Linked DNA regions of Homo sapiens: region 2 is linked to region 1. The links come from fine-mapping of genetic effects on gene expression. Tissue or cell type: whole blood. Region 1 holds a variant in brackets; the other region holds the start of a gene. All regions are shown on one strand. Distances are between the middles of the regions. Region 1 overlaps GNB1L (G protein subunit beta 1 like). Region 2 holds the start of RTL10 (retrotransposon Gag like 10).

Region 1 (2,778 bases):
ATTTCCAAATGATACGGGAGAGGGGCAGGGAAGTGCTAGGAAGGGAAGTCACCTGGCAAGGGCTCCACCCCCGGGCCTGTCCCTATAGACCTAGGTGAGGACAGGCACTCCTGCCTTCGCACCCAAATGCTGCATTTCCCAAGACCACCCTGGCTCACCACACCCCCATTCTGTGCCTTTAAAAACCCCCAAGACCATAGCAAGCAGAGACACAAGTGGCTGGACGTTGAGAGGACGTTGAGGGGAGCACGGTGGTGGAAGAGCACACCGACAGAGGCTGGCATGCTGGCAGGCCATCAACCAGCGAGCGGAATGAGGTGGAATCTGGCCGGGCAGTTGGAGGAGAGCCCAGGCCACCCAGCAGCCCAACTCCAGGGGAAAACCATCTCCCTTCTGGCTCCCTCATCTGCTGAGAGCTACTTCCACTCAATAAAACCTTGCACTCATTCTCCAAGCCCATGTGTGATCCAATTCTTCCAGTACACCAAGGCAAGAACCCCAGGATACTGAAAGCCTTCTGTCCTTGCAATAAGGCAAGGGTCTAATTGAGCTGACTAATACAAGCCACCTATGGACAGCTAAACTAAAAGAGCACCCTGTAACACACACTCACTGGGGCTTCAGCTGTAAACATTCACCCCTAGACACTGCTGTGGGGTCAAAGCCTCACAGCCTGCCTGTCTGTATGCTCCCCTAGAAGTTTGAGCAGTGGGACACCGAGGAAGCGAAACACACCTCCATTGCACGCCCCGGGAGGGGATAAGGGAACTTTTCCCATTTCACAACCTGTTTTCCCCATATTAAATTGAGAAGTTTTGTTTTGTTTTAAAGTCAGAGTCTCACTCTGTCACCCAGGCTGGTGCCATCACAGCTCACTGCAGCCTTGAACTCCTGAGCTCAAGTAACCCTCCCACCTCAGCCTCCCCAGTAGCTGGGACTACAGGTGTGCGGCCACCAGGCCCAGCTAACTTTTTGCAGAGATGGAGTCTCACTGTGTTGCCCAGGCTGGTCTCGAACTCCTGGGTTCCTCCTGCTTTGGCCTCCTGAGTAGCTGGGACTATGATTTCCTACTTTTTGCACTCCTCTGTGCCAGATTTCTTAAAATAAGATCTGTTCTTCTTGTCGCTATATCAGGAAGATGGGCTAGTTCCAGCAGTTAATGGGGTGGGGAGGTAGGGGACTTAAGCCAGGGGCAGGAGGAGCCGCCCTGAGCACACCTGTGCCTCTGTGGGGTGGGGAGGGCTGCGGAGGAGGCAGGCACTGGCTACACAGCCTACACGGCCATACACAGTCCCCAACCAAGGAAGGCCTGTCTCAATTTGGGCTCCAAAAGACCCCTCTGGGGACAGTGAGGGGACATCAAGGGCAAAGGACTTGAGCAGGCCAGTGAGGGCAGGGGCAAAAGATGGGGGGAGGAGGGGTGCGGTGAGGGCAGAACCCAGGGCAGCCCTGATGCCCCACTCTGGGCGCTGCAGGAGGGAGCGGGGGTGGCGGCGCCTTGAACCACATCCTGGGTGCAGGGGAGTGGTGAGCCCTGGGCCTGAGCACCAGAGGTACACACCACGTCTACCTGG[G/C]CTGGGTCCTCAGCCCGGGGCTGCCCCTGCCTGCGCCTGTACTTGGAGCCTCCTACAGACACCCATGAGCTTTCCGCCTGGCACCTGACTGCAACTTTTGTTTCCAGAAGGAAAAATGTTAGGTTTGGGCAAGTGTGGCCACCCAGCCGGCCGAGTGGGGTGGGAGTGCGGCTCCCTGGGCGTTGTCTGGGTGCAGGCCAGTGAGGCTTTCTCCCGCCCAGTCTGACAGATTCCAGGTGGGAATGTGGAAAGCAACTGTTTTCCCAGGATGTGAGAGGTCCCCAGACAGGCTGCCCCGGGAAAAGACAGATGCTGCCCCACAGGGAGAGCTGAAAGCTAGGAGGAGGGTTAGACAGCCTTGAGCACAGGGGACGTGTGGCAGGGGGCAGCGCAGGCTGACCGAGTGCTGGCTGGCGGCCTGGGGGTGGCCGAGACCAGCGCATGGAGCACAGCAGGCCAAGGGAAGAGCTGACTCAAACTCCTGCAGCATTCCTGTGGGTCTGTAGACCTTGGGTCCCGGGGGAGGAAGCACGCCCCTCTTTCTCACATAAATACAACTTGTAACAGGTTTTTGGCAGATTGGCAAGAAAAGTGTATGTAGCTCCTAATTGGTTATTTAAATGCAATGAACAAATAAATGCCTGTTCCTATCTCATTATTTCTGTACTGGATCTGCCTGAAGACAGAACGACTCTCCTTGGGCAGGGGCCAAGCCCAACTGTGCGTGGGGGCCGTCCTGCCCAGTACCAGCCCCAAAGACTGCCCGGGCACAGCGAATGGGGAGGACTCGGCAGTGGGCATGGACAGTAGCCCCCACGTGTGCGCCCCCTATTCCATGGTATGTCCTCCCCATGCCCCGCCCTCGGGCCACCATGCCCCACTCACCAGGTGGGACAGTCGCCACTCAAAGGCTCTTCTCTGATTTCCCTTCAGCTCCCCCAAGAGCTGAGCCTCCAGCCACACCCTCCTCCACTATGACACCCTCCCCGCACATCTTGGGCACCCCTCCCTTGGCAGACCCTGCCTCCTGTGCCACTGGGGGTGTGGATACCACTGTCCAGCTGGGCCAGTCCTGTGTTACCAACACCTCTGGTCATTCTGGCCTAAGCTCCACCTAACAGTGGCCTCCCTGCTTGGTGATCCCCCCACCCCCTGGGTGTTCCCTAGCTCACCTTTCCCCTGAGGACTGTGATCACCACCTTGT
Region 2 (2,778 bases), 45 kb after region 1:
AACACTCTGGAATCCCTCAGGTCTGACCCCCCTCTGGGGGGGGGGTCTTCACCTGAAAGCCCAGCCCATGACCCTGGCTTCCCACCTTACTGCAGGATTATACTAAGGCCTGGACGTGAGTCGAGTCCAGTCCAGTCCCTCACTGAGCTCTAAAAAAGCAGTGACCCCGATCCAGGGCCCAGCTCCCACCACCAGCCAAGGTTAGGTATCCAGGTTGCCCACAATGACCACACCCCATGCCCGGGAGCCACAGTGTGCTACCCAGATCTCTGCCTTCCCTTCTTCCCAGTCCCCTACCCTGCCCACTCACCTGCGCACCTGTGTCCCCTGCAGTCTGGGAGAAGGCTTCCCTGCACCAGCCAGCCAGGCCTGCTTTGGGCCTGAGCCTTCCTAACCCTGGGCCGCACTCTCACCATTTTGAGAACCTTAGCCCTCCCACGCCTATCAGTCTGTTGGTCCCCCTACTTTTCTCCCCACACTGCCTGGCATAGAAGACTTTCGGCCCTTCTAGACTGGACAGCACTATCCTAAAGGGGCAGGTACCACGGCGCATGTGTGTTTGCCCCCACAAGGCCAAAGGCAGCACCTGGAACGCTGGAGCCGTTCTCTGCTCTGGGGAGACCCAGGAGCCCCAAGAACAAAACCTGCCCAAAGCCTTAAAGCAAGCTGAGTGCAGACGACTGCACCGCCCGCCCCCCAGCAACCGCCATGCAGGAAATACGAGCTCACAAGGCCCACGGCAACAAGAAGCCCACCCACCTGAGGCTACGCGAATCGCCCGCGAAGAGGGTCCTGGGATCCGTAGCCACAGACCGTGGGACGGGCCTCCCTCTGAGGGCGAGAGTCCAGGCGCCACCTAGAAAGTGGAGAACGAGATCGGCCGCCGTGAGGCCAGGCAAGGAGCGGGCGCGGCTTCCCGAGACTGCGAGAACGGCCCAAATGTCTCCAGGTGCCCCCACAAACCCCCGGCGCGGACCGAGAAACTGAGGCCCGCAGACCGAAGGCACTGCGACCCAGGCTGGGGCTCCGAGTGCCCCTCTGCGGATCAGAAGTCGGGAAAAGACGCAGGGGCGCAGCTCCAGGCCCGCGTGCACGGAGTTCAAGCCGGCCGCCCGGGCTCCCGCCTCCACACTGACCCTCTTGCCGGAGTCGGGAACGCCTGCTCCTAGGAGCGCCGCGCAGCGTCCAGAGACCGATTACATCGCGCAGCCACGCCCCCAGCGTGCGCGCGGCCGCCGTGTACGACCCGGCGCATGCTCCCGGCACGCTCCACGCGCTCCTCCCATCCAGGCCGCGCCTGCGCTGTATGCCGTGTGGCCGCTACCTCGCAGGCTCTCCCGGTCCCTGCTGGCGCGGCAGTGCCGCGCGGTGGGTGATGGGAGAGCGCGCCCATTCCCACGCCGCGCCAAGTGCCACGGGATCAGGTGGGGCCGCGTGTACAGGCGCGAGACGGTCGGGCCAAAGCTGCCCCTCATGATCCCCAGCGGACGGTGCCCGGCGGTCCCTCAGATCCGGGAAATCTGCACCCGGCTGTGGCGTAGACCGAGGGGCCGATGCTGCTTCAGCCCGCCGTTACTGCCCTGGCGTCAGCCAGACACTGGGGTGCTGCTGGGCGTCGAGAGGGCTGCTGCGGGGCCGGGCTAAGCCTGGGGGGCTGCAGGTGTCGGGGTGGATGTGGGCATAGCGGGGCTGCTGGGCCTCGTGAGCGCCCTGGAACGGCGTGCCCGCGGAGTGCCTCTCATCACTCATTGCCAGTGCGGGGAACCTTGTTAGGGCCCGGTTCGACGTAGCTGCAGGCTGGGCGCCAGAGGCAGGGGGCAGGCAGTCCGAGAGGACCCTCTACCTGCATACCTGGGGGCTGCAGGCAGGGCCTCTGGGCCTCCTTGTTGTGGATATAATTGTGTGCTTCCCGACTCAGGCCGAGGCTGGACCCGGAGACGACAGCGAGGGCAGGCTACCAAGCCCTCCCCACAGGGCCGTGCCCAGCCCAAGCCTGCCGAGTCAGCACCCAGATCCTGGGACAAGATAGGTGAGGATGAAGTGGTGGTGCTCTTCTCACTTGCACAAGCCGTCCCACGCCACCTCTCCTCGGCTTCACGGTGCCTAGAGAAGAGGTGGGAGAGGGTGCAGGCGCCCCAGCTCAGGATCTGATGCCTGTGGGCCAAGGACCTGGATGCAAGCCAGGAGTCCTTGGGGCCACGGGCAGGCAGCCGGATTCACCGGAAAGTGACGCTTCTCAAGGGGAACACACACGTAACACACCAGCTCCCTTTCTGCCCTGGTCCAGTGACTCCTTTCATGAAAGCTCTCTGAAATGTTATCTGCATTTACACCCAAACTCACTCACTTTGATCCCTGAAACGCGAATCAAAGGTCACATTGTACCTTCCCTGGGTCTGTGGGGCTTTCAGCAGCCTGGGCCAAAAATAATAAAAGTGGCACCGAGCCAGGAAACGCCTCCTTGAAGTGGGAATGAAATTTGGATTTTTTTCGGTTGTATCTTTCCTAATTGACCTGATAATTTAAACTTCCTCCCTCAAGGGAAAGGTGGGGGTTCCCACAAATTCAGCTTACCTCAGCCTCAAGGCAGCTCAGTCTACAGCTCAGCGCCCATCAGCAGAGTGGGCAGTGGGCCTGTGGAAGAAATGAATCCAACTGAGCCAGAAAAGGCCTTTTTTGGTCCAAATTTTTTTTTTCTTTCAGGCCCTCTCCTGTGTATAACTGTCATGCACCGCATAACAACGTTTTGGTCAACTAGGGACCACATATGTAACTGGT

The links. PIP is the estimated chance that this variant, and not a neighbour inherited with it, causes the effect.
Region 2: RTL10 starts here. The variant in region 1 is fine-mapped to the expression of RTL10 in whole blood (TOPMed, PIP above 0.99).

What each region holds. Positions count from the first base shown.
Region 1 is chr22:19,808,975-19,811,752 of GRCh38, forward strand. The region is part of intron 5 of GNB1L (G protein subunit beta 1 like); the gene reads right to left. Among named protein-coding and RNA genes, the nearest start is that of GNB1L, 45 kb to the right of the region's middle. RefSeq lists a silencer at 2,591-2,766. The variant G/C (reference allele first, on the strand shown) is at 1,575.
Region 2 is chr22:19,853,684-19,856,461 of GRCh38, forward strand. It overlaps RTL10 (retrotransposon Gag like 10), which reads right to left and starts at 1,191. Exons shown (of 3, transcript NM_024627.6): 1 at 977-1,191; 2 at 760-856. It overlaps GNB1L (G protein subunit beta 1 like), which reads right to left and starts at 1,191. Exons shown (of 8, transcript NM_053004.3): 1 at 1,137-1,191; 2 at 760-856. LOC124905080 (a long non-coding RNA gene) reads left to right here and starts at 1,289. Exons shown (of 2, transcript XR_007068005.1): 1 at 1,289-2,029. RefSeq lists enhancers at 1-299, 1,722-2,201.